Linked DNA regions of Homo sapiens. The protein of the gene in region 3 purifies or fractionates together with the protein of the main gene of each other region. This does not show direct contact. Each region holds a gene or a part of one and is shown on either strand. Other genes may lie near its edges.

Region 1 (3,500 bases), on a different chromosome or scaffold from region 3:
TTTTTTTATTTTTATTTTTGTAGAGACAGAGTCACACTATGTTGCCCAGATTGATCTTGAACTCCTGGGCTCAAGTGATCCTCTAGCCTCAGACTCCCCAAAGTGCTGGGATTACAGGCACAAGCCACCACACCTAGCCTATAAAACAATCTTTAATATGCACTTTTTAACAGCTGCATATTTTCCTCTGGATATTAATTTATTCAACTAACCCTGTTATTTCTGCATATTTGGGTTGCTTCTCCTTTTTTTATTATAAACATCCTTTCATATAAAGCTTTAAGTACCTATGAAAACATCCATAGGATAAATTTGTAGAATTAATGAGTCAATGAATAAAAACAATTTTAAGACTTCTGCAGCACACTTCTATTGGCATTTATTTCGAAACTGCCTTAAAATCACTCTCTAATTGTTATCCAACGGATTCCCTGAAGTCTAAGTAGTTTATCAAGACTCTCTCATTAGTCTGCCTCTTGTTTTTCCAGGTCATAAAGTCTATTACCAAAATTAAGAATCCATGTTTCTGGCCCGGCACGGTGGCTCACGCCTGTAATCCCAGAACTTTGGAAGGCCAAGGCGGGCGGATCACAAGGTCAGGAGATCGAGACCATCCTGACTAACATGGTGAAACCCTGTCTCTACAAAAAATACAAAAAATTGGTCGGGCGTAGTGGCATGCACCTGTTGTCCCAGCTACTCGGGAGGCTGAGGCAGGAGAATTGCTTGAACCCGGGAGGCAGAGGTTGCAGTGAGCCAAGATCTCGCCACCGCTCTCCGCCCTGGACAACAAAGCAAGACTCCGTCTCAAAAAAAAAAAAAAAAATCTATGTTTCTGAGGGTTCTCTTTTGAAGTAATCATCTTTTATATGAAGAAATGGCTAGCAACAACTTAATTTGCAAACTGAGCATTTTGATCTTAAAGCAATTATTAGTTTTTATACAAATAAAATATACTTGACTCAGTTATTTTAAGTTACATGGATCCCAGAAAGACAACATGAAAAGTAGAAACATTTGTATTACGTCAAACGCTCTGTAAGACAATATCACAGAACTTTAAACTTTTAATATGAATTTGTGACCAACAACCATGTAATTGTTCAAACAACTTCAAATACCTTATTTTACTTACCAGTTGTATAGCTATCATGAGAACTGTTTTAAGAGAAAATGTTCTGTCACACAAGTCAAACAAGTCTTCCAAACTAGGTCCCAGCAGTTCCAGCACCATAGCATTGTATTTACCACAAGGGCCGAAATAGTAAACTTGAGGTATACCATCTGGGGGAAAAGAAATACTCATTTAATAATTTCATCATCTTAAATACTAAGGTTTTCCTCTTAAAAACTGATATTTAAAATTTTATAGTTTCAAGAACTAAAGCAGTACTATCACTTTTTCCAGATACATACTTTTCCTGACCAAACCTCCCAACCTCCCAATACCTTCTCTTTGATGTTCACATTGTAGCCTGGATACACCTCTATTGCAGCTGCATGACTGAATTACATTATAAACAGTACTTCATTGTTTCTCTCTACCACCTTATTACTGGACAAAAGCTGGGCTTTTTAGCTTTATATTTCCATGGCCTGGAGAAAGGCTTAGCACATAGGAGAGATTCCAGTTCTACTGAAAAGAGAGTCACTACTGGCTTTAATAACCATGTGATAGGCATACTGCTAAGATCACCACTGTCAAGATTCCCATCCTCTGGCTTATACACCTTGTATAAACCCCTCCCTTTGAACGTGAGCATGATTCCTGGGATCTCACTATTGTGACCAGGCTAACTTATACGGCAAATGTAATTAAGGCTCCTATCAGTTGACTGTAAGTTGATCAGAAGGAAGAGAATCCTGGTGGACCTGACCTATTCAGGTGAGACTTTAAAAAGATAGTCTAGAAGTCAGAGATATTGGAAACAGCAGAGAAACTCTCCTGCTGGCCTTAAAGTAGCAAACCACCATGCAGTGGAGGGAGCCACATGCCAGATAGGAATCCTTGAGGAAGTAAGGGCCACACAGTTCTATTGCCATGAGGAATTGAATTCTGACAAGAATCAGTGAACTTGGAAGAGAGCACTGAGGCTCATGTAAGATTGCAGTCCAGGCTTACACCTTAATTTCCACATGGTAAGACTCTAAACAGAAGACCCAGCAAAGCCATGCCCGTATTCCTGACCCATAGAAATTGTGAGATAATAAAGTCTTTCATCTTAAGCCAGTAAGAGATAGTAATAATTCATTATGAAGCTATATAGAATAATACAAACTCCAAATATGAAGTCTGAATAATACAAACTCCAAATATGAAGTCATCTGTATTTTATTTTCAGAACTAACAGACTCCCAATAAACTGAAATGTAAGTGATCAATTTACTTTATATGGAAGTTGTCAGAATCAAAACAGAGTCACTTGTATTAAAACCCTGACAAACAGAGCTAGGGAAGGAGATGAAGGGAGGGTTCTCACACATATATATATATATGCCTGATAAGAAGAACTACCACAAAAGACTGCAAAAACCACAACCTGGAACAAAAGCCACCACAACTTTACAAAAAATTACTCTGTGAGGACATCTGCCCAGGAACTGCCTGTCCAACTTCAGACTGAGGCCATTCTTGTTAATGATCCTTGTAGCCAAGGGTAACTCTCTCAAAACAACTTATGTGACCCTCCTCATTTTTCCTTTAAAAACTCTTGTCTTCCTTTACCTCCCTGAATATACTCACATATATTCCCATTGTAATGCCCACTCGTAAATAACTATCATTTTCTTTTAGACAAGTCTCCCTATTATTTAGTTTGACACTTAACACTGCATTTATCTATTAGCATGAAAAAATGAACTTCTTCCACCACAAATGTCTCAGTTTTACTTCCAAGTGATTTTTTTTCAGTATATTGAAAGAGAAAACAAATCTAATGAAAACTTCTCATTCTTTTTAATAAAACGTTTTTTAAATATAACATTATTATTATTTACCCTATTATTTTGAATATAAATCATTGCAGGACAGAATAGAAAACACTGAACTAAAAACCAAGAAAACTACATTCTTAGTCTAACCTAATATTCATCAGCTGTGTGGCTAGCTTGTCATTCAACCTCTCAAGTGGGCCTCAGTTTACTTATCTATTATAATATTAGTGATTTGGATGAGACAAGTATTTCTCAGATATGAATATGAGTGAGGCAGCAGAACATCTGCAGGTGGGAATGTAAGCTAGTGTAATCACTGTAGTCCCAGCTACTCGGGAGGCTGAGGTAGGAGAATCACTTGAACCCAGGAGGCGGAGATTGCAGTGAGCCGGGACTGCGCCACTGCACTCCAGCCTGGGCGACAGAGCAAGACTCCTTCTCAAAAAAACAAAACAAAACAAAACAAACAAACAAAAAAAGATAGTGTAATCATAGCAGGAATGGATACAAATTCAAACTGCATACATGGTGCCCTCCCCAGAAACAGAGATTCTGATACACCCCAA
Region 2 (3,500 bases), on a different chromosome or scaffold from region 3:
AGGAAGCTGTCCTATATTTCTAATTTATTAATTTTCTAAAATTAATAAATTTTAGTATTTCTAAAACTTAATCGACCACATTTGTAGAATACTTATAAACAGTTCATGGAACACAGTTTGAGAAACATTGCCCAATACTTGATGATGTCCCTCAACAAAACAGACTGACACACTTGAACATAAGTCATGACTCAGTCATCATAATAAACATCAATTATCAAACAGTACCTAACCATACCAGAGGATCTACCTCCTCTCTCATGGTGATTTGTGCTATAATCAGTGGCAGCCTGCCTCCATCTAAGAGCCTTTCTTTTCTTCCAATATGTTGTTTCTCATCTGTTGTATTCTGAGAAATCAGGTAACCAAGATTATTAGAACAGTGTGCAAGTAAATCAATAAACTCTGAATCATGGGCCAAGGGCCACTTCTAGAGAATTCCCTGCACAAATTTTAGTGCAAGAGTTTTATGACAATTATTTGTGTGGCTAAGGCAACCATCTGCTTTCTTTCCAGGACTTGGATATATGTCAGAGCCGAAGCTGCCAAAATTATAGCCTCTGGCTAAATAAAGGCACACAATATCTTATCCACAAAACTGAAATCCAAAACACACCTGAAAACCCACAGTACTTACAGAACCTATTATGTAGCAAAACCTGAGCAATCTTAATGTGAGGCTATTGACAGTCATCATTACTTATGCCATTTGGTGTGAATATACACGTTTCACTGCAGAATACCTATGTGTTTTATTATGGGCTGCTTCTCAAACCTTGTTAGGGATGCTACAAGATAATAAACAATACAGATGTAGTAACACCTTTCTAAAATCTGAAAAATTCTGAAATCAAAACATACCCCAGTTGTGTCAGATAAGGTAGTCTAGGCCTGTATGCCTGTGCTACAGTCTACATACACTCAATAAAATAATGTAAGAATGCCAGACTCTTTAGGGATTGGTCTTTCTCTATTTGCCTATAACTGTGCAAGGTACATCATAGGGGTTCAGTAAATGGTTTAATAAATGCTACCCTTAGAAGCCAGCTGCTAAACCTCCCATCAGGTTTCATGTTTCTCCTGAAAGACTACAAAATCAAAAAGAAAAGAACCAGTACAGGACACATGAATATACAAGATCTTTAAATTCCTTGTCTACTTGTACCTAAGGCTACAGACATAAGAGAAACAATCAGAAAAACTATAACAAGTGTCAAAGTAGGCAACTGTATTATAGAATTGCACACAAAAAGTGTTCTAATTTCAAAAGGCTGCAAGTCCATATCTTCTGTGGGAAGAAAGTTAACACGGTTCATTACTAGAAAGATTACAGATTGTTTCATCATTCCTATAAACCAAGCTATCTAAGAGTTTTGAAACAGCAATAAAGGCTATATAACCCTCTCAGAATGGAACACTGGAATCCTGACCAGAATTCCTAACAGTAAAAGAATGTTATGTTTATGCTAGTTGAACTTTATCTTTTCCCCGAGAAAAAAGAGTTAAGGGACATTATTTCAAGCAGTCAGGAATTTGGGAGTTAAGTGTGTGTCAGACTGGAAAACGCTTGGTAGAACTCAAACTTACCTATGAGAAGCAGCCTTCTTTGGTGCAAATTCATATTCTTCTGGATACCAGCGTCTATACACAGCAGAAATGGAACTCTCAAAGGAAGCTGTCTCAAATATACTGAACAATTACCTCCTTCAAGTAATCCATTAACATTGAAAATGGCATTTGAGTCATGATTCTCAAGTTGCTTCTTTGCCGGGGCCTCTATCTTCTACCCTCTCCTCTCTTTCTTCTATATATTTTCTATGAGCAAGCTCATCAGTGTGTAAGATTGCTAAATCTGGAAATCCAGCCCAGCCCTCCCTAGAGTTTCTGTCATGGATATGCAACTGCCCACTAGATATCTCCATCTAAAAATCTACCAGACACTTCTAATTCAACATACATCAAAACACACCCACCATTGTCAACACCTCCCCTGCCCCATCCACCATATCTACTCTTCTTCTTCTCCTTTTTATTTGAACACTGCCATCATCCACCAAAGCTGCTCAAACTACAAACATCAGAATAACATTATACCTCTTCCTTTTCACACCACCTCATTCGAACACTGAGTGTCTGTCAACTGACCCTCTCACATTTTTATCATACAAGCCCCTCATTTCCATGCCCTGCCCTTTCTCCAGTTCATTCTTCTCCCCAAGATGGCAGAAAAGCCTCCTTTCAGGCCGGGCGCGGTGGCTCACGCCTGTAATCCCAGCACTTTGGGAGGCCGAGGCAGGCGGATCACGAGGTCAGGAGATCGAGACCACGGTGAAACCCCGTCTCTACTAAAAATACAAAAAATTAGCCGGGCGCAGTGGCGGGCGCCTGTAGTCCCAGCTACTCGGGAGGCTGAGGCAGGAGAATGGCGTGAATCCGGAAGGCGGAGCTTGCAGTGAGCGGAGATCGCGCCACAGCACTCCCGCCTGGGCGACAGAACGAGACTCCGTCTCAAAAAAAAAAAAAAAAAAAAAAAGCCTCCTTTCTATCTTTCTACCACTTTTCTTGCCACCTTCGAATCAGAACGATCGTTATCACTCACTCTTCTACCTACACTTTCTCAAAGGAACCCCATTCCTTGCAAGATCATAGTGAACTTCACTGGCATGGTGTGCAAGCTCTTGAGGCCCTAGAACCACCTCCCACCTTCTCCAACCTCATGCTTTGCACTCCAGCATTAATGAATGCTTTGGGATTCATTTAACACATTTTGCCTTAGCTTCCTGCTCCCTCACATTCTTATACTTCTGTCTGCTCTCTCTGAATGCTCTCTCCTCAATAAAATGCCTGCAAGACTTCCACTCTTCTTCACATCTCAATTTCAAAGCTATTTCCTTGCTATGTAAAGGTTTCTCTGACTCCCCATTCCTCTTGCTCCAGCACAGTTAGATGCTGCTTCCCTTGTGACCTCACTAGTCCATACGCACATTTTCACTATAGGAGTCATCATAGAGTATATTTTCAGGGTGCGTTTTTTTACACATATGTCGATCCACTATTTTCTAAAGTACTTAAGAGCTTTTCATCTATATGTTCCCAGTCACAAGACTTCCACATAATATTAGTTAATCCAGAAAATGTATTGAGCACTTATTTTGTGCCAGGCATTGGCTTATTTACTGGGAACATGTCTGACGTTGTTGCTCCCAATTCTCACCAGTCCAGGGTAAGTTAAGGTCCTATACAAGCAAGAATGGGATGAGGAAGATATGAACCCACTTGGTAGCCTTAGTTCTACAGCTCTATCCAATTACTTTCCACAAATTCTCAATTAAAACATGCTAAATGAGGTAATTTAATGGATCCTAAATATAGCCCTTACCTGCACAGTTCTTTAACAGTGCTCACATCAATTATTCTATAATGAAGATGTTTCATGAACTGGGGCATGTATTTGTCAAGAAACTTCTTATCTTCATGAACTGAATTTCCTAGAAAGACAC
Region 3 (3,500 bases):
AGTGACTGCAGCTCAGCAGAGGGAGTGTGTGGAGTGTGCGGCCCTGCCTGGCTTTTATTTTGCTCCTCCTGTTATTGGGAGGGATTAGCAGCAGAGCGAATGTTTGGATCTTTGCTGAGCAGTCCCATCGGATTTTTCTTTATTAAATAGGATTGTGTTTTATTGTAAGAAGGTTTCCCTAAGACAAATAACGAAGGAAATTCTGGGTCCAGGAGTACAGACTGTAGCTTCTGTCATCTCTTGCCAAGTTCGTAGCCCTCAGATGGTGTCTGTCTTTCCCCTTTGCTTGCGGGGCCTTTTACCACAGCACTTTGGTGTTCTTTTAGCTGCTGCGATAGGACTAGCTGTTAAAATCTGAGATTTTACATTTTTGCCAGTCGCAATAAATTTTGTTAGTTCTTTCTTGATGTGTTCTTTAAAATAATAATGCTTTTTTTTTTTGGGTGGGGGACAGAGTCTTGTGCTGTCGCCCAGGCTGGAGTGCAGTGACGCGATCTCGGCTCACTGCAAGCTCCGCCTCCCGGGTTCACGCCATTCCCCTGCCTCAGCCTCCCGAGTAGCTGGGACTACAGGCGCCCGCCACCACGCCCGGCTAATTTTTCGTATTTTTAGTAGAGATGGGGTTTCACCGTGTTAGCCAGGATGGTCTCGATCTCCTGACCTTGTGATCCGCCCAGCTCGGCCTCCGAAAGTGCTGGGATTACAGGCGTGAGCCACTGCTCCTGGCCTCATCTTTTTTTTTTTTTTTTTTTTTTTTGAGACGGAGTTTCACTCTTGTTTCCCAGGCTGGTGGAGTGCAACGGTGTGATCTTGGCTCACCGCAACCTCTGCCTTCTGGGTTCAAGTGATTCTCCAGCCTCAGCCTCCTGAGTAGCTGGGATTACAGGCGTGTGCCACCACACCCAGCTAATTTTGTATTTTTAGTAGAGATGGGGTTTCTCCATGTTGGTCAGGCTGGTCTCGACCTCCCAACCTCAGGTGATCCACTCACCTCGGCCTCCCAAAGTGCTGGGATTACAGGCGTGAGCCAACGCACCTGGCCTCATCTTGTTTTTTTTTTTTTTTTTTGAGACAGAGTCTTGCTCTGTCGCCCAGGCTGGAGTGCAGTGACTCAGTCTCGGCTCACTGCAAGCTCTGCCACCTGGGTTCATGCCATTCTCCTGCCTCAGCCTCCCGAGTAGCTGGGACTACAGGCACCCGCCGCCACGCCCAGCTAATGTTTTTTGTATTTTTAGTAGAGACGGGATTTCATCGTGTTAGCCAGGATGGTCTCGATCTCCTGACCTCGTGATCTGCCCACCTCGGCCTCCCAAAGTGCTGGGATTAGAGGCGTGAGCCACCGCGCCCTGCCACATCCTGTTTTTTTTACAACAGGGTGTCACTCTGTCTCTCACCCAAGTTAGAGAGGAGTGACACAGTCTTAGCTCACTGCATTCTCCCAGGCCCAAGCAATCCTCCTATCTCAGCCTCCCAAGTAGCTGGGACTTTAGGTATGTGTCACCACAGTTGACTAATGTTTTAATTTTTGTAGAGATGGGGCCTCCACATGTTGCCCAGGTTGGCCTTCCTGGGCTCGATCCTCCTGCCTCAGCCTCCCAAGGTGGTGCATGCCTACAGTCTCAGTAGATTAGAATCACCCTAACCCTCAGTAACTGAGATTGTAGGCACGCACCACCTCACTGACTCACCTCAAACTCTCTTTTTTGAGATGGAGTCTCTGTCACCAGACTGGAGAGCAGTGGTGCGATCTTGGCACACTGCAACCTCCGCCTCCTGGGTTCAAGCGATTCTCCTGCCTCAGCCTCTGTAGCAGCTGGGACTACAGGCATGCGCCACTACGCCCGGCTGATTTTTGTATTTTTTAGTAGAGACGGGGTTTCACCATGTTGGCCAGGATGATCTCGATCTCTTGACCTCATGGTCTGCGCACCTTGGCCTCCCAAAGTGCTGGGATTACAGGTGTGAGCCACTGCGCTCGGCCCATCTCAAACTTTTAATAAGGCTCTTCGTATAGAAATTTTTAAAAAATTAAAAACATTTTTGGCCAGGCTTAGTGGTTTAAGCCTGTAATCCCAGTGCTTTGGGAGGCCAAGGCAAGCAGATTACATGAGGCCAGGAGTTTGAGACTAGCCTGGCCAACATGGCGAAACCACGTCTCTACTAAAAATACAAAAATTTGGGCAGGTGCAGTGGCTGACACCTGTAACCCCAACACTTTGGGAGGCTGAGGTGGATAGATCTCTCGAGTTCAGGAATTTGAGACCAGCCTGGGTAACATGAGGAAACCCCATCTCTGCAGAAAATACAAAAGTTAGCTGGGCGTGGTGGTGCATGCCTGTGGTCCCAGCTACTCGAGAGGCTGAGGTCAGGCTGAGGTGGGAGGATCCCTGGAGCCTGGGAAGCGGAGGTTGCAGTGGGGGATGAAAAAGAATACCCCGTGTCCAAATAGCAAAACACTCTGAAATGAGGCAAACCGTGGTTTGTTGAACAGGTGTTCTGGGACAAGGTTGCCGAATATGCATTAGCCGTAATCCCCAGGACAGCCATGCAGGGTGGGTCTTAAACAGTTTTTTAGATTCTCGAGTATAAAGGTATAATATTGAAGAATAAGCACAAATAATGTCATCATACATGTTAAAGTGACAACACAGGATTTACAAAATTACCCTTTTTTCCCCAAAATTACCTCTTACGATGTGGTTTCTGTTGGTGCTGTTTTCTCTTGCATCATCCCGCCAGGTTGGGTAACCCTAACTGATTGTCACCAGCAGACCAACAGACAGACTCACAGCATCCTTCTCCCTGGTGTGAGCACTGCTTAATTCACATTTATGAAAATACTTTAAGACAAGGGCACTGTAACTCACATAGAATCTGAAGTGGCCTTGAACAGGGAGCTGGTCCAGCTGCCTCTTAGTGTGTCTGACCTCCAGGTGGGCGGACTGAGATGCGTGCAGGTGTTCATGGTATAGGCATCCTTGTAAACCTGCTCTGGTTAAGGATAAATAGGCAAAGTTGTGCTAATGCTGTTCCTACAGCAGCCTTTGCCCTGGACTGACTCCAGAACAGCTGGCTGACTGACAGCTGCCTCCCAGTAAAGCCTTAAACAGGCTTATCTTATATTTTTAAAAGGCAAAGGACAATAAGGCAGATTAATAAACTGTGGGGGTTTTTTTGTTTGTTTTTGTTTTTCTTGAGACAAAGTCTCGCTGTTGTACCCCAGGCTGGAGTGCAACGGCGCGATCTCGGCTCACTGCAACCTCTGCCTCTCGGGTTCAAGCGATTCTCCTGCCTCAGCCTCCAGAGTAGCTGGGATTACAGGTGCCCGCCACCACGCCCGGCTAATTTTTGTATTTTTAGTCTAGACGGGGGTTTCACCATGTTGGCCAGGCTGGTCTCGAACTCCTGACATCAGGTGATCCGCCTGCCTCGGCCTCCCAAAGTGTCAGGATTATAGGGTGAGCCACCGTGCCTGGCTTTTTTTTTTTTTTCCTGTCTTT
Region 4 (3,500 bases), on a different chromosome or scaffold from region 3:
CCTCACCCTGGGGCAGGAGAAGTCACCTAGAGGTACTAGGCCAGGATCAGGAGGCCTCTCCAGGGCAGGGTGGCCAATTCCTGGGTGCAATGGAAAGGGCTGGGCCGTGAGTCAGGGCACCGATCTGCTTCCAATGGCCGCTGGCCTCGGCTGAGTCTCTTCTTTGCATCCCTGTCGCACCTGCCCAGCCTCCTTCATGGGACTGTGGAGGGGATCCGTGAGATGAGGTCACAGCATGGGGAGATGTGACTGGTTTCTTACGTTTCTTTTGGAAATGAGGTCCCGTCAAGCATGGGAGACTGGCCTAAGCAGCTTGGAGGGTAGGAGGATTGGTGGCAGGCAGCCCAGTCCATCTCAGGAGAGGGGACTGTGAAATGGCCATCCGCTAAGAGGCAGCGCTGATGCCTGGAAGATGCAGAATCACTGCAGATGCTCAGCTCGCTGGTGGGCTTAATTTCCTACTTATTGTCGTGGGAGGCAGAAAGAGAATGAGAAGGAGGGGGTGCCCTCAAAAGAGAGAGGTGGAGAATGAGACAAAGAAATGAGAGAGCCAGAGAAACAGAAAGAGCGAGAGAGCTAGAGTAAGGGAAAAAGAGCAGCGCTATCCAGCCAGGAGTTCCCAGGGTTTCCACAGCCAAGGGAACAAAGCCCTAATCCGGGACACATATTTGGTTACAGAAGTGAGTGCTTGGCTCACCTAGGCTTACAGCAAGAACAAGTTCTGCAGGTGAGGATGGGGCCTGCTGCCTGGGGCCCACGAGACAAGCCGGGAGCAGAAAGGGTGGGGAGCCAGGTGAAGCCAGGTTTTCAGAGTCAGGTCGGAAGGGAAGGCAGAACCCAGCAACCTGGGCTGCACGAAGCAGCAATGGGAGTGGTCTGGGCAAGGGTCTGGCAGGGATCCCACCCCTCTGCAGCCCAGAAACCCAGCCACCTGGGAGCGCTGGCAGGGGCACCAGGCTCCCTGGAGTAAGCCTTTGAGAGCAAGTCGACTGTGACAGCCCAGCCTGCGAGGAACCCTGCCTCCGAAAGTTCCCCAAAGTCAGTTTGGGGAAGTTTCTTCCAGTAAAGTTTCCATGAGGTGGCCTTCTGGCTGAGGCAATGGGGTCAGTCCAGAGCAAAATTCTCAAGTCCTTGTGTCCTCTTGTCTCTGCCTGAGCCTTGTCTGCTACCCCACCCAGATGCCTGACTTTAAATGACTGGTAACAGCTTAAAATATGATCCGTTGTAGGGGAGGGCACTCCTCACATCTTAGCAAGAATCAAAGGCTAATATTTACAAGTACTTTCCAACTTTCATCGCTTCCCAGAAGGAACACCCAGCTCCCCACAGCATGGGAGAAAGATGGTAACCCTGAGAAGTCAAATATCCCACTGTGTGTTGCTGGGCAGTCTCTGGGCCTCAGTCTCCCATCTCTAAAATGAGGAGGCTGATTGAGGTCCCAGGTGTGACTTCTCAGACTCTCAAACCTCAAGGCTATATAATAGGCAAACAGAGTTGATAACAACTCCAGGTAAACAGACATGTCTTTTTAAAGTATTGAGCGGGCTTGTCCCTGAAATCACCCTGGAAAGACAGCTTTGGCCAGGCATGACGGCTCATATCTGTAATCCCAGCACTCTGGGAGGCCAATGTGAGAGGATCGCTTGAGCCCAGGAATTCAAGGCTGCAGTGAGCCATGATCACGCCACTGCACTCCAGCCTGGGCAACAGAGCAAGACCCTGCCTCAAAAAAAAAAAAAAAAAAAAGGCTGGGCACAGTGGCTCATGCCTGCAATCCCAGCACTTTGGAAGGCCGAGGCAGGTGGATCACCTGAGGTCGGGAGTTTGAGGCCAGGCTGGCCAACATGGTAAAACTCCATCTCTACTAAAAATACAAAAATTAGTCACGCATGGTGGCGCACGCCTGTAATCCCAGCTACTGGGGAGGCTGAGGTGGGAGAATTGCTTGAACCCAGGAGGTGGAGGTTGCAGTGAGCTGAGATTGTGCCACTGCACTACAGCCTGGACAACAAGCAAGACTCTGTCTCAAAAAAAAAAAAAAAAAAGAGAAGAGAAGAGAGCCCTGTGCAAGGTGGGAAAAAAATGAGAAAACTATAACTAAGAATTTAATATCTCACCTTTCTTTTTTTCTTAACAACAACAAAAAAAGATTTTTAGAAGTAATTGAATGAATTTCAAAGGTTTTGGTAGACATGGCCATCTGCTCCTCAGTTCAGGCTGCAGGTGTAACTTCAGCTATATCCCTTCCTGCCGCTGAAAATGGTGTATGTTCAGGTGTGGGAAGATCAGGCAGCTGGCTTTGGCAGAGCAAGAGGCTTCAGAGCAAAAGCTAGCATATTTAGATGTATATTATTATATCATGTCACTCATAGTGAGTTTCTGTAATAATCCTTGTAATAACCTAATAACCAAATCCATTTTCTAAGCATTATCCAAAATGCTTTCCCTCATACTGTCCCACTGAGCCTTTGCAACAGCTCTGAGAGGTGGGCTAATAATATTAACCCCATTTTACAAAGAAAGCTGTGGAAGTGAGTTGCTTTCAGGTCTCACAGCGCAGGAGAGACAGAGCTGGGGCTCCAAGTTAGAGCCAGCTTCCTTTGAATTCTGTGCTTGGTTCAGAGTGACTCACTTTAGTAGACTGCAAGTAATCTGTGCCTAAAATATGGGATAAAGAAAAAGAACAGGTTAGGCACGGTGGCTGTAATCCCAGCCCTTTGGGAGGCTGAGGCAGGAGGATCACTTGAGGCCAGGAGTTCGAGACCAGCCTGGGCAACATGGCAAAACCCCATCTCTACTAAAAATACAAAAAATTAGCCAGGCATGGTGGCACATGCCTGTAGTTCCAGCTATTTGGGAGGCTGAGGTGAGAGAATCACAGGTCAAGGCTGCTAGTAAGCCCAGATTGCGCCACTGCACTCCAGCCTGGCCAACAGAGTGAGACCTTGTCTCAAAAAAAAGAAAAAAAAAAAAGAAAAAGAAAAACCCTTTCAGGTGAGGTACAGGTAGAATTTTGCTCTGGTTAAATTCAACATTGGCCAGCAGGTCCAATAATAAAAAATAAATAAATGTGGCAAGTAATAAAGTAACAAATGTGTCAAGTTTGGCTGAAAAATGGAAGTGTTCATTTATTAGTTATTGGTGTTGATCACTTGGGACTTCCTAAAACGAATGGACTTCAAAATCTTGAAAAATCAAATAGCTTATTTTTTAGCTGTCCATCAAGAGAAAAGATTTGGGATGAAGGGTCTGTTTTAAAAAGTCTAAAATTGAGAGCACAGGCTGGATGTGGTGGCTCATGCCTGCAATCCCAGCACTTTGGGAGGCCGAGGCAGGCAGATCACCTGAGGGCAGGAGTTCGAGACCAGCCTGGCCAACATGGCAAAACCTTGTCTCTACTGAAAATACAAGTATTAGCCGAGCGTGGTGACGTGCGCCTGTAATCCCAGCTACTCCGGAGGCTGAGGCAGGAGAATTGCTTGAACCTGGGAGGCGGAGGT
Region 5 (3,500 bases), on a different chromosome or scaffold from region 3:
TTTTGATCCGAATGGGAGAAGGAAAAACAGTGTCACTCCAATAAAATGAATAGCCTGTTAGGATAACTGCACTTTGAATTTTGTTCTTACTTCAAAAGTTTAAAAGAATACCTGGAAAGACCTCTGAGTAACTTCCACATCACTCAGTGCTGGAGAAAGGGGACCAAAGACTAGTGCAGTAAGGGAGAAATGGGCTCTCAGAGGGACTCTGCATCAGGCCACAAAGCAACTAGGCAACTGCTGACTATTGTTCTCCAAACTTCTAAAGTCCCGAAGAACAAAAAAGCAAGTGCCCAGTACTCAGCTTTTCAAAACCATTAAAATACAAACTTCAATGACTAAACTAATCCCTGATTGGCTGGAATGTACAATAAGGCTGGGCTTTCGGCCAATCAGAGTTCTGTTTGTTGGGAGTGGACTGGACTCTAAGCAACTGCCACTCACTTGGCCCTATATTTTCTCAAAATTCTTGTTTCTCTGGCACTAGTTAACATGTGGATCTGAACTAAAGCACTAAGAGAGAACCTTTCTCTGTACTCTACCTTTGCTCCAGTTATGATTATCTACTTTGCCATCTGTTAGTATCAGGGTTCAATTAATTTGCCGGTATTGAGAATTCTGTATTCCTAGGTTTATCCCTTCCTTAACTTATTTCTCCTCCCATCTCCCATTTCTTCACATCTGACTACACTTAGTGCACAGCAAAAGGAAAATAGTGTTTCTCACTGATTTGGGTTCCAGGTCAAAGATAAATTCCCACTCAGTTTGGAGGCTTACTGAAATGTCTAGGTGCTTGCTCTGAAACTTCAAGAGGAAGATTAGAAGGACACATTCCTAAGAATTTAAAACCAGGTAAGGAAGAAAGCTGGGGAGGCATGCCCACAAGCTCTTCAGTTAAGTGAGGCCACAAACTCAAAAACACCATGCAAAGCTGCAGCAAACGAACAGCAACTACAGGAAACCCGGGACATGAATTGAGAGTTCAGTTGTTCCCATTAACAATCTGAATAGAGAAATAAAAGGCAAAATCCTAATCGCAAAGAGTGTACAATACCTAGGTAGTAAGGGCCTAATAAGAATTGCTCTTATTTGTGCCCATCAGGAAAACATACAGAGAAGTTAAGTTTATCAGCTCAAGGAATCAGGTAAGGATGTCCTGACTCTTAAGTCTATGGATCCCTTGATTCTTTTAGATCTTGTTGTCCAGTCACACTAGGTATATGCTGAGACACGTAAGTGTTTTCTCTTTGAAAAACAATTTGAGGTTGGGTGTAGTGGCCCACGCCTGTAATCCCAGCACTTTGGGAGGACAAGGCGGGCGGATCATGAGGTTAAGAGATCGAGACCATCCTGGCCAACATGGTAAAACTCCGTCTCTATTAAAAATACAAAAATTAGCTGGGTGTGGTGGCACACGCCTATAGTCCCAGCTACTCGGGAGGCTGAGGCAGGAGAATCATTTGAACCCAGGAGGCGGAGTTTGCAGTGAGCTGAGATCACACCACTGCACTCCAGCCTGGTGACAGAGCGAGACTCCGTCAAAAAGAAAAGAAAACAATTTGAAATCCCTCAAGTTTACCATAAGAAAGACTCCCTATAGAGATCAAGCTGTTTCCCAGCCCAGGAGATATAACAAGAGATCCTTAATTCAAGACAGGTATTCCCATATTAGGTAAAGCAGTCAGCAACTTCCCAGGAAAATATAAAGCCTTAAGTTAGTTGAAATGTGAAACATCTGAAGTTTAACCCTCTGGCTCATAAATAGCTTTGCCTGTTTTGGTGAGCAAAGAGAAATAATCTTCATGCATAGAATCCTGATCTGTTTTGGAGTGCCAACTAATATATCTTTTATTTTAGCCCCAACCCTTTTTTTTGAGACAGGGTTTCACTCTGTCACCCAGGATGCAGTGCAGTGGTGTGATCGCAGCTCACTGCAGCCTCGACCTCCCCCAGCTCAGGTGATACTTACACCTCAGCGTCCCAAGTAGCAGGGCCTACAGGTATGCACCATCACACCCTGCTAATTTTTGTATTTTTTTTTTACAGAGATGGGGGGCGGGTTTCACCACGTTGCCCAGGTTGGTCTCGAACTCCTGGCCTCAAGCAATCCACTGGCCTCAGCCTCCCAAGGTGCTGGAATTACAGGCGTGAGCCACCGCACCCAGCCTTAAATGTTTTTATAGAGACTAAGTCTCACTATGTTGCCCAGGCTGGTCTCAAACTACTGGGCTTAAGCGATCCTCTCATTTTGGCCTCACAAAGTGCTAAGATTACAGGCATGAGCCACTAAGCCTAGCCTTATTTTAGTTTCTTGGCTGCTGTAAGGGAAACAGAACTTTGTCAGAGTGACATGCAAAAAAATTGAAATCCATCTCTTTTCTCTACAGAAACACTAAAGCTAAGGAAATAAAACATGTAGCCATTTAAAATGCTGCAATCGTGAAGTCCGTCTTAAAAGCTCCTCTCATTTTGCCCCCCTATGGGACTGTGACAACTTAGCAGCAGCAGGACATGTCTTAAGCCAAGACGTAAGGAAGGAAGGACTCCTTACAAAGCTGGACCTCACAAAAACGACCCGAGAGACTCATTAACTCTTGATCCCTAAATGAACTGGTAGGAGGACCATAACAACAGAGGCAGGAACTTGGCCAAAGAACTCTAACCAAGCCAGACAGTAAAAGGGCATTTGTAAGGGATGCCCCTATCACTGCCCTCTGCTATGGCCACACAAGAGGAATCCAGGACACATGAAAAACATAAAACCACCTCCCTCCAAAGCTTCTAAATCTCCATCCCATTTTCAGCACTGGAAAAATCATACATAAACAAGGCTTTTTCATACTAACAGAGCCTAATGTTTATTCTTTTTTTTGAGACAGAGTTTCACTCTTGTCGCCCAGGTTGGAGTGCAATGGCACGATCTCGGCTCACCGCAACCTCCGCCTACCGGATTCAAGTGATTCTCCTGCCTCAGCCTCCAAGTCGGTGGGGCTACAGGCATGCACCGCCATGCCTGGCTAATTTTTTTTTTCTATTTTTAGTAGAGATGGGGTTTCTCCATGTTGGTCAGGCTGGTCTCAAACTCCCGACCTCAGGTGATCAGCCTGCTTTAGCCTCCCAAAGTGCTGGGATTATAGGCATAAGCCACCGCGCCCGGCCAATGTTTATTCTTCTAAGGATGTCTGATATGGCAAAAAGTTAAACTGATTTTTTTGTTTATTTCACTTATTTTCCTTTTTTTTTTTTGAAATGGAGTCTCACCATGTCGCCCAGGCTGGAGTGCAATGGTGTGACCTTGGCTCACTGCAACCTCCGCCTCCCGGGTTCAAGCGACTCTCCTGCCTCAGACTCCCGAGTAGCTGGGATTACAGGTGCCCACCACTACGCCCAGCTATTTTTTCTATTTTTAGTAGAGATGGGGTTTCACCATGTTGGCCAGGCTGGTCTCAAACTCCTGACCTCGTGATCCGCCCACCTCAGCCTCCCAAAATGATGGGATT
Region 6 (3,500 bases), on a different chromosome or scaffold from region 3:
TTCAGCATCATTAAAATCATCAGGCCCAGAGACACAAGGCTCTCGTGAAACCAACACTTATCCAAGCTTGACCATGCAGATGCTGCACCGAGGTGCACTTTATGCTTCAGGCAGAAATCTCCCCATGTTTCGTGAGGACACTGACGCTCAAGCTGTGGAGGCCCCTGCCTCAGAGCACACCTGGGTCCTGAGGCCACCTGGCGTGGCCCCTGGTTCTTCCAAGGTGGGTCCTGAATAGGGCTGGTAATGGGAGCTGGATCTGGAGGAATGTGAGTTTGGTTTGTGACAAAGCAGATGGTGAAGGTGCTCTTCCTCCCACATGTAAAGGGTTAGCTTGAAAGGGTACGCTGAATCCATTCTACAACCTAGGCAGGTGCCTCCTCAAAAGGGACAAAGATTGCTGCTCATTATTTCATGACCAGCACCTCCCCTGGTGAGATGGGGGAGAGGAGTGCTGGGAACAGGAAGCCATGCACATTATTTACTGCATTTTCCTACAGCTGTGTTTGGCAGGAAACACCAAGATCTTTGAGACCCTGACCTTAGAACAGTACTGTCACCTCCCTCAGTACGTGACCATCGTGGTCAGACTGATGATATGGAGCTCTGACTCTGGTCTTGTTTTATTCAGGAGGTCATCTGTGTGCCACAGGGGTGGGACAGCCATGAGAGGACACCAGGAAGAGGCCGCTAACTACCAAAAAGCAACATGCTTTCCACGGTGCTGGGGCTGGGACTGTGGCCACCAAAAAATAACACCCTGCAAATAACAACATCCACGTCTCAACCCTCAGAACCTGAGACTGGGACCTCATTTGTAAAACCAGTCTTTGCAGAGACTCAAAGTAAAGATGTTGAGATGAGATCCTCCTGGATGATCTGCCTAGGTCCTAAAGCCAATGACCACGGTCATGACAGAGAAGCAGAGGGAACTGGACACAGAGTCAGGGGAGCTGGCCATGTGACCCGGAAGCCAGGGGAGTGACAGCCACAGAAGGAACACGTGGAACCACCAGCAGCTGGAGGCGGTGAGGAATGGAATCCCCAAGACCCTTGTAGGACATGGAGCCCTGCCAACACCTTGATTTCAGATTTCCAACCTCTAGAACTGTGAGGAAATTAATTTTAAGCCGCCAGGTTTTTGGTCATTTGTCACAGAACCACAGGAAACTCCTATGTGTCTCATGCATTAGTAAGCAGCTGAATTCCAAGTACCCCAGAATAGGCAGATTTGAAAAGGAAAATGCAATCTACAACTGCAAAACCAACTATGTCTGCCTGTACTTCAACATCTGTTCCACGAACTAAAATGTTGCCTTCTCGCTGTGATCCCACCTTGAGGACTTTGCCGGTTTGAAAGTGGATTGATAATTGTTGAGAAATTCAAAACAAAAACAGGGTATCTGATGAAAAACAACTCATTAACATGTGCTGTATCTTAAGATCAGGATAAACAGATTTGGGGAAGGTGGGGTTTATATTAGTATCGACAGTCATTTTTTTTTTTTTTTTTAGACGTAGTCTCGTTCTGTCACCAGGCTGGAGTGCAGTGGCGCGATCTTGGCTCACTGCAACCTCCACCTCCTGGGTTCAAGCGATTCTCCTGCCTCAGCCTCCCAAATAGCTGGGACTACAGGTGCCTGCCACCACACCCAGCTAATTTTTGTATTTTTAGTAGAGACGGGGTTTCACCATGTTGGCCATGATGGTCTCAATCTGTTGACCTCATGATCTGCCCGCTTCGACCTCCTGAAGTGCTGGGATTACAGGCGGGAGCCACTGCACCCGGCCAACAGTCATCTTAATAGGAGCTCCGAGCTGGATTCCTGTCCTGATAGGATCACAGCCCCTCAGGACACAGAACGGGCCTACAACCCCACATACCTGGAGGCCATGAAAGGGGTCATGTCCAGCTCCAGGGGGAAGGACACATACGTGGTGATCTTCCGCCGCAGCTTGGCTGAGTGTTCAAATCGCTGCAGAAATAGGAAGGGGACAGAGGGAAGAGGAAAGAAGATCAGAAATGTCACTGGAAGCTTCAGGGCCTTCTTCTGATGACAGGTGTCTGTGTTATCTCTTTTGTATTTTATTGAACTGCCTTGTAGCTACATCTAGAATTACAGATTCAAAAACACAGTGGCAATCCACCCAAGTCCTCATTTACAGGGTTCAAGTCTTCAAATGATGGGACTGTTCAGTGGTAACACCAAGGGTACAAAAAGTAATCTTACAGCAAACCCAGCAAAGCACAGAAAACAAAACAAAGATCCGTGGCCCATGGCAGCAAAAATGAACAAATTGTTCCTTTCACCAGACAGAAGACAGTCCTTTGCCTAGATCAGGAGTCACCCATTCCAGCCAGCAAGCTAGGAATGGGCGTTTTCCATGTTTAAAGGGTGGTGAAATGAAACAAAGAACATGTAACAGAGAATCGTATGATCGCACGCAGCCTGTGGAGCTCGACATCTTCAGTTATCTGGGCCTTTAGAGAAAGAGCTTGCCAACTCCTGGACCAGATCTGCATGCTGAGGGCCTTTGTCTTAAAATAAAACAGAAAACCTGAGGAGGGGGTAGCTGGAGGAATGGTAGAAGTAATAAAAACTTCACAACCACTCTGCTCCCAAGAAAACTCACATTCTACTTTCACTGCGAAGCCACTGATTTTGTTTACCGCAGCACAGACAAAAGGACAATTCACAGATGGGAGGACAATTCCCTCACACCCTCCCTTCCTCGGTGTTCTTCCTGCTTGCTGCAATTATAAAAAATGTAACTGCACAGCAAACCAAAAGGCTGAGGACCGTACTGTGGACTAAAAACTAAGTCTGCCATTAGAGTTGGCTTTCTGGAAAACTTACTTTGAGATGAAAACAGGCTACGATGGGCAGTTTCTTCATAGTGAGCTGCTTTGTGGACTCCTGGTAGCTATGGCAACCGCTGCACTTGATCTTGGCGCTGCTGCCCAAGTGCTCTGGTCTGGTGAATCTACAGGCGTTCAAAAAAGACAGGAGCGGTAAGGGAGATGCAAGAGACAGAAAAATGAGAGGAAAGAGGTATTTTATCTCTTTCATTGGGTTGATTTCCCTACCAAAAACATACACTTACAACTAAAAATGAAACAATGAAAAAAAGAGAAAATGTTGTCCACCTTTGCTGCCTGTCTCTACAGAATATTTATCTTAAATATTTTTTTTCCAGGAAAGGCCTGGGGAAATGGTAATAATTTTCTAAGTACCATATGACCCAGCAGTTGAATTTGAGCCAGAGAAATGAAAACTAATGTTCACACACAAACTGTCCACAAATGTGCACCAGAATGTTACTCACGAGAGTCACAAAACTGGAAACACCCCGTTTCTTCCCATGGCTGAATAATTAAAGAAACTGTGGAACACTGTACCATGGAGTATGAGACAGCAGCAAAAAAGGAAGGAACTACTGATCCCAAGCTGTACCCTGGATGCGTCCCCAGAGAATTAGGATGTGCAAGAAAAGCCAAT
Region 7 (3,500 bases), about 19 Mb from region 3:
GCCGTTTACTGTGTTGGCTAGGCTGGTCTGGAACTCCTGACCTCATGATCCACCTGCCTTAGCCTCTCAAAGTGCTGGGATTACAGGCATGAGCCACCACACCTGACCTGATATGTGCAAAATTCTCGTGAAAGATCTTTGTCCCCAAATTGTGCCAGCTTGCTGTCTAACGTTGCTGCCAATTAACCCTGCCTCTATGTAACTGGATATCATCCCTTTCAATCACATGTCTCAAAAGAGCTTTAACAAAGGCAAAGCTGATACCCAATTGAGAAGAAACCTTTCTGTGTATGCCTCTTCCTAAAACGCTGGGTCAGTGGAAAGGGGTCCAGATCTGCTCCAGACATATGGGGAAAAAATTCATCTCACAAGCAAAGGGTTGAAACTACACAAGCAAAGGTGCAATCAGTGTTGTAATATCTGACTGTGTTGTAATATTCTTATGAGTTGAGTACAGAGGAGCAGCAGAAAAACCTGCTGACTGGTTTCTAAGTCTCCTGGCGCCCTAAAATCTGCACTGCATTGCTTATTTTAAAATAAACACCACTAATTTTGGCAAGTACCTAAAATGGCAGGTAAGCCATTAACAGTGGTCTTGGTACATACATAGTAAAGTCTGAAGAGAATGGTTTAGCCTCCAAAGAGAGTTTGGGGAATGAGTAAAGGCGGAGGAAAGTGCATGGAGGTGTCCACTCCCCATCAAACTTCCCTTCAAGAGGGCGTTTATATGAATGAGCGAAAGAGGGCTATTAGTGTGTTCTCATTCCCTGGCTTACTTGGGGAGAACATTGCATCTTACTTTCCATTTTTCTCTCAGCTCTGGTCTGATGGAAAATGTTGAGGCTAGGAATGGAGTAGAACATTCCAAAGTTTAATAACGCTTTTGGTGTCATGGAAGAGAACAGGCCTAAGAATCAGAAATCTTGAGTTCTGGCAGCCCCTGGTCATTGTGTTGAAATGCTCCCCAAAGAGCATTTTTTTTTAAATTTTTTGTAGAGACAAGGTCTCACTATGTTGCCCAGGCTGGTCTCAAACTCCTGGCCTCAAGCAATCCTTCTCCCTCACCCTCCCAAAGTGCGGGGATTACAGGTATGAGCTGCTGCGCCTGGCAGGGGAGTATTTCTAAATGCTCTTTTAGTGGCAGGGAGCCCCCATTCGTAAACCACCATGACAAAGAAATGTAAGGTATCCTAATCACTGCCATGAAATGCTAAGATCAAAAAACAAATCCAAAGTGAATCCTGTCAGTGGCTTCACAAAATAGAGGAAAGGAAGGAAAGGTTGGAGGAGGCACAGAGGAGGCACCTTTCCAGGTGTCTGCCCAGTCCGCACCCTTGCACTGATACCTGTACCTCAACCTATTCACAAAGAGGGCTCAGAGAGGGCCCTGGCAGTCATGCTTGTATCCTATGGCCAGGGGCAGATTCTTAGGCCCCACCAGATGCTCCCCACTAGAAATTGGGAATCTGCATTGAGGAACTTAATTTGGTGGTCAGGCAAACCTGAGAGCTGAGAGGGTGCCAGATTTAACTACGTGCACAGGAGCGGGACAGCCATACACAGAAAAAGTGTGAAGAAGATATGCAAAAGGCAGAAATGTGTGGCTGAAGGATACACAGACCGTCAGGCAGAGACAGGGAGAACGGCTGTCTTGGCTCCTGGTGGCATTCTGGTTCTTGGTTCTAGGCCCTAGTAAAAGCTGCCACGCCTTCAGCTCTCTGGTTCTGGGAGGGACTCCTGTCTCCTTCGACTAAATCCTCCCTTTTTTCTGAAGTTGGTTTGAGTAGGTTTGTGTTATCTGCAATCAAAAGAGCCTTGACTATAACAAAGGAGGGGTAAAAAAGGGACTTGGAAAGGAGGACAGGGTGCTGAATGGACACACTGCAGAAGGACTGGACACACACACCCCACAACAGTCTAGGGAGATACCTGGGCGGATGCAGACGACATGGCAGCCCCTGGGGTCAGTGTGGGGCAGCACGGTGAGGAACCCGGAAGCAAGGACATCTTTTAAGGCTGATGGCTTCAAGTTATTGAAGACTTCGGGCCAGCTTCTTCTACAGCTGTGGTAGTTGACGAGGAGCTGCAGGGCCCGGTCGTAATCAAACTTGCGGGCTCGGAGGAAGCGCAGCAGGAAGGCATCGTCGAGGGATGTGCTCAGGTTGGGGTACTCCTTCCGCACCATGTCACGAAGGGCCTGCACATCTCGAAGTCTCCATTCCGGCTTTTCCTGCAGCTCTTCCCGGGCTTTGGTGACCAGGTCTTCTGTCAGTGAGCACACATAGCCCGGAGGCTCAGGTGGTGGTGGCAGCTCATTTTCAGAGAGTGAGGCCACAGAAGGGCTGGTTCTCAGAGAGTCACTTTCTTCGGACATTAGCTACCAAGGTCCCTGCCAACAGAGAAGCCCTAAGCAAAGTTAACAAGTGCTTATTTCAAATCCTAGGGCAGTACAGTGTAGGGGACAGGAACACTTCTGTAAAAACCGAGTAACCTCAGGGCAGTGTTTCTCAACTGGGGGCAATGAACTGGATCTAAACCATACACGCAAGTCTGACCCCAGGCCGGCTGCTGTTAGTCCCCAGGGAGGCAGGCAGCAGCTACAGCAGACTATACACTCCCTAATAAACACCAGGGCCTTCCTTATAAATGTATTAATAGGTGCTCGACCTTATTCATCATTAAATAAATGTGAATTAAAACAACTGTAATGTATATGCTGTAATCCCAGCACTTTGGGAGGTTGGGGCAGGCGGATCACCTGACCAGCCTGGCTAACATGGTGAAACCCCATCTCTACTAAAAATACAAAAATTAGGTAGGTGTGGTGAGTGCCTGTAATCTCAGCTACTTGGGAGACTAAGGCAGGATAATTGCTTGAACCCGGGACGTGGAGGTTGCAGTGAGCCGAGATGGCGCTGCTGCACTCCAGCCACAGCAAGACTCTCAAAAAAAAAAAAAAAAAAAAAAAAAAAAACAACTCAGATTCAGATTGGCAAAAATAAACGTACTCTAATATGCTTGCTGCTGCTGGGAGTATAAATTGACAGCCTCTTTGGAGGGCATTTGTCAATATCTTCAGAATGTAAACCTACATGCCCTTTGGGTCAGCAATTCCATTTCTAGGACATATACTTGTATATATATGCATAATATGCACATGGCCTTCACAAGTATTGATTATAATGATAAAAGATTGGAAACATCTTAACTGCCTATCAGGGGAGACTGGTTAAGTAATATTACCATATTAATGGGGTACTAGTCAGTCATGAAAAAGAATTAGGGGGCCGGGCGCGGTGGCTCACGCCTGTAATCCCAGCATTTTGGGAGGCCGAGGCAGGCGACTCATGAGGTCAGGCGATCGAGACCATCCTCGCTAACGCGGTGAAACCCCATCTCTACTAAAAATACAAAAAATTAGCCGGGCGTGGTGGCAGGTGCCTGTAGTCCCAGCTACTAGGGAGGCTGAGGCAGGAGAATGGCGTGAACCCGGGAGGCAG

What was found.
Region 1: the proteins of DNAJC5 (region 3) and CSNK1G3 purify together in Homo sapiens (affinity purification with mass spectrometry; one large-scale study listed by BioGRID and IntAct). This does not show direct contact.
Region 2: the proteins of DNAJC5 (region 3) and REXO2 fractionate together in Homo sapiens (co-fractionation; one large-scale study listed by BioGRID). This does not show direct contact.
Region 4: the proteins of DNAJC5 (region 3) and ECE1 fractionate together in Homo sapiens (co-fractionation; one large-scale study listed by BioGRID). This does not show direct contact.
Region 5: the proteins of DNAJC5 (region 3) and DNAJC7 purify together in Homo sapiens (affinity purification with mass spectrometry, with the first as the bait; one large-scale study listed by BioGRID). This does not show direct contact.
Region 6: the proteins of DNAJC5 (region 3) and USP22 purify together in Homo sapiens (affinity purification with mass spectrometry; one large-scale study listed by BioGRID and IntAct). This does not show direct contact.
Region 7: the proteins of DNAJC5 (region 3) and TTPAL purify together in Homo sapiens (affinity purification with mass spectrometry; one large-scale study listed by BioGRID and IntAct). This does not show direct contact.

The regions. Positions count from the first base shown.
Region 1 is NC_000005.10:123,571,177-123,574,676, reverse strand, and holds part of CSNK1G3 (casein kinase I isoform gamma-3), read right to left. Parts: intron 1,285-3,500; coding exon 1,136-1,284; intron 1-1,135. UniProt on the Homo sapiens protein: Serine/threonine-protein kinase. Casein kinases are operationally defined by their preferential utilization of acidic proteins such as caseins as substrates. It can phosphorylate a large number of proteins. Participates in Wnt signaling.
Region 2 is NC_000011.10:114,445,967-114,449,466, reverse strand, and holds part of REXO2 (oligoribonuclease, mitochondrial precursor), read right to left. Parts: intron 3,489-3,500; coding exon 3,380-3,488; intron 1,642-3,379; coding exon 1,588-1,641; intron 1-1,587. UniProt on the Homo sapiens protein: 3'-to-5'exoribonuclease that preferentially degrades DNA and RNA oligonucleotides composed of only two nucleotides. Binds and degrades longer oligonucleotides with a lower affinity.
Region 3 is NC_000020.11:63,901,626-63,905,125, forward strand, and holds part of DNAJC5 (dnaJ homolog subfamily C member 5), read left to right. Parts: intron 1-3,500. UniProt on the Homo sapiens protein: Acts as a general chaperone in regulated exocytosis. Acts as a co-chaperone for the SNARE protein SNAP-25. Involved in the calcium-mediated control of a late stage of exocytosis. May have an important role in presynaptic function.
Region 4 is NC_000001.11:21,283,964-21,287,463, forward strand, and holds part of ECE1 (endothelin-converting enzyme 1), read right to left. Parts: intron 1-3,500. UniProt on the Homo sapiens protein: Converts big endothelin-1 to endothelin-1.
Region 5 is NC_000017.11:42,010,940-42,014,439, forward strand, and holds part of DNAJC7 (dnaJ homolog subfamily C member 7), read right to left. Parts: intron 1-3,500. UniProt on the Homo sapiens protein: Acts as a co-chaperone regulating the molecular chaperones HSP70 and HSP90 in folding of steroid receptors, such as the glucocorticoid receptor and the progesterone receptor.
Region 6 is NC_000017.11:21,005,012-21,008,511, forward strand, and holds part of USP22 (ubiquitin carboxyl-terminal hydrolase 22), read right to left. Parts: intron 2,986-3,500; coding exon 2,859-2,985; intron 1,977-2,858; coding exon 1,885-1,976; intron 1-1,884. UniProt on the Homo sapiens protein: Deubiquitinase that plays a role in several cellular processes including transcriptional regulation, cell cycle progression or innate immunity.
Region 7 is NC_000020.11:44,478,874-44,482,373, reverse strand, and holds part of TTPAL (alpha-tocopherol transfer protein-like), read right to left. Parts: intron 2,945-3,500; exon of another isoform or gene 2,390-2,944; 5' UTR 2,375-2,389; coding exon 1,930-2,374; intron 1,799-1,929; coding exon of another isoform or gene 1,683-1,798; exon of another isoform or gene 851-1,682; intron 1-850. UniProt on the Homo sapiens protein: May act as a protein that binds a hydrophobic ligand.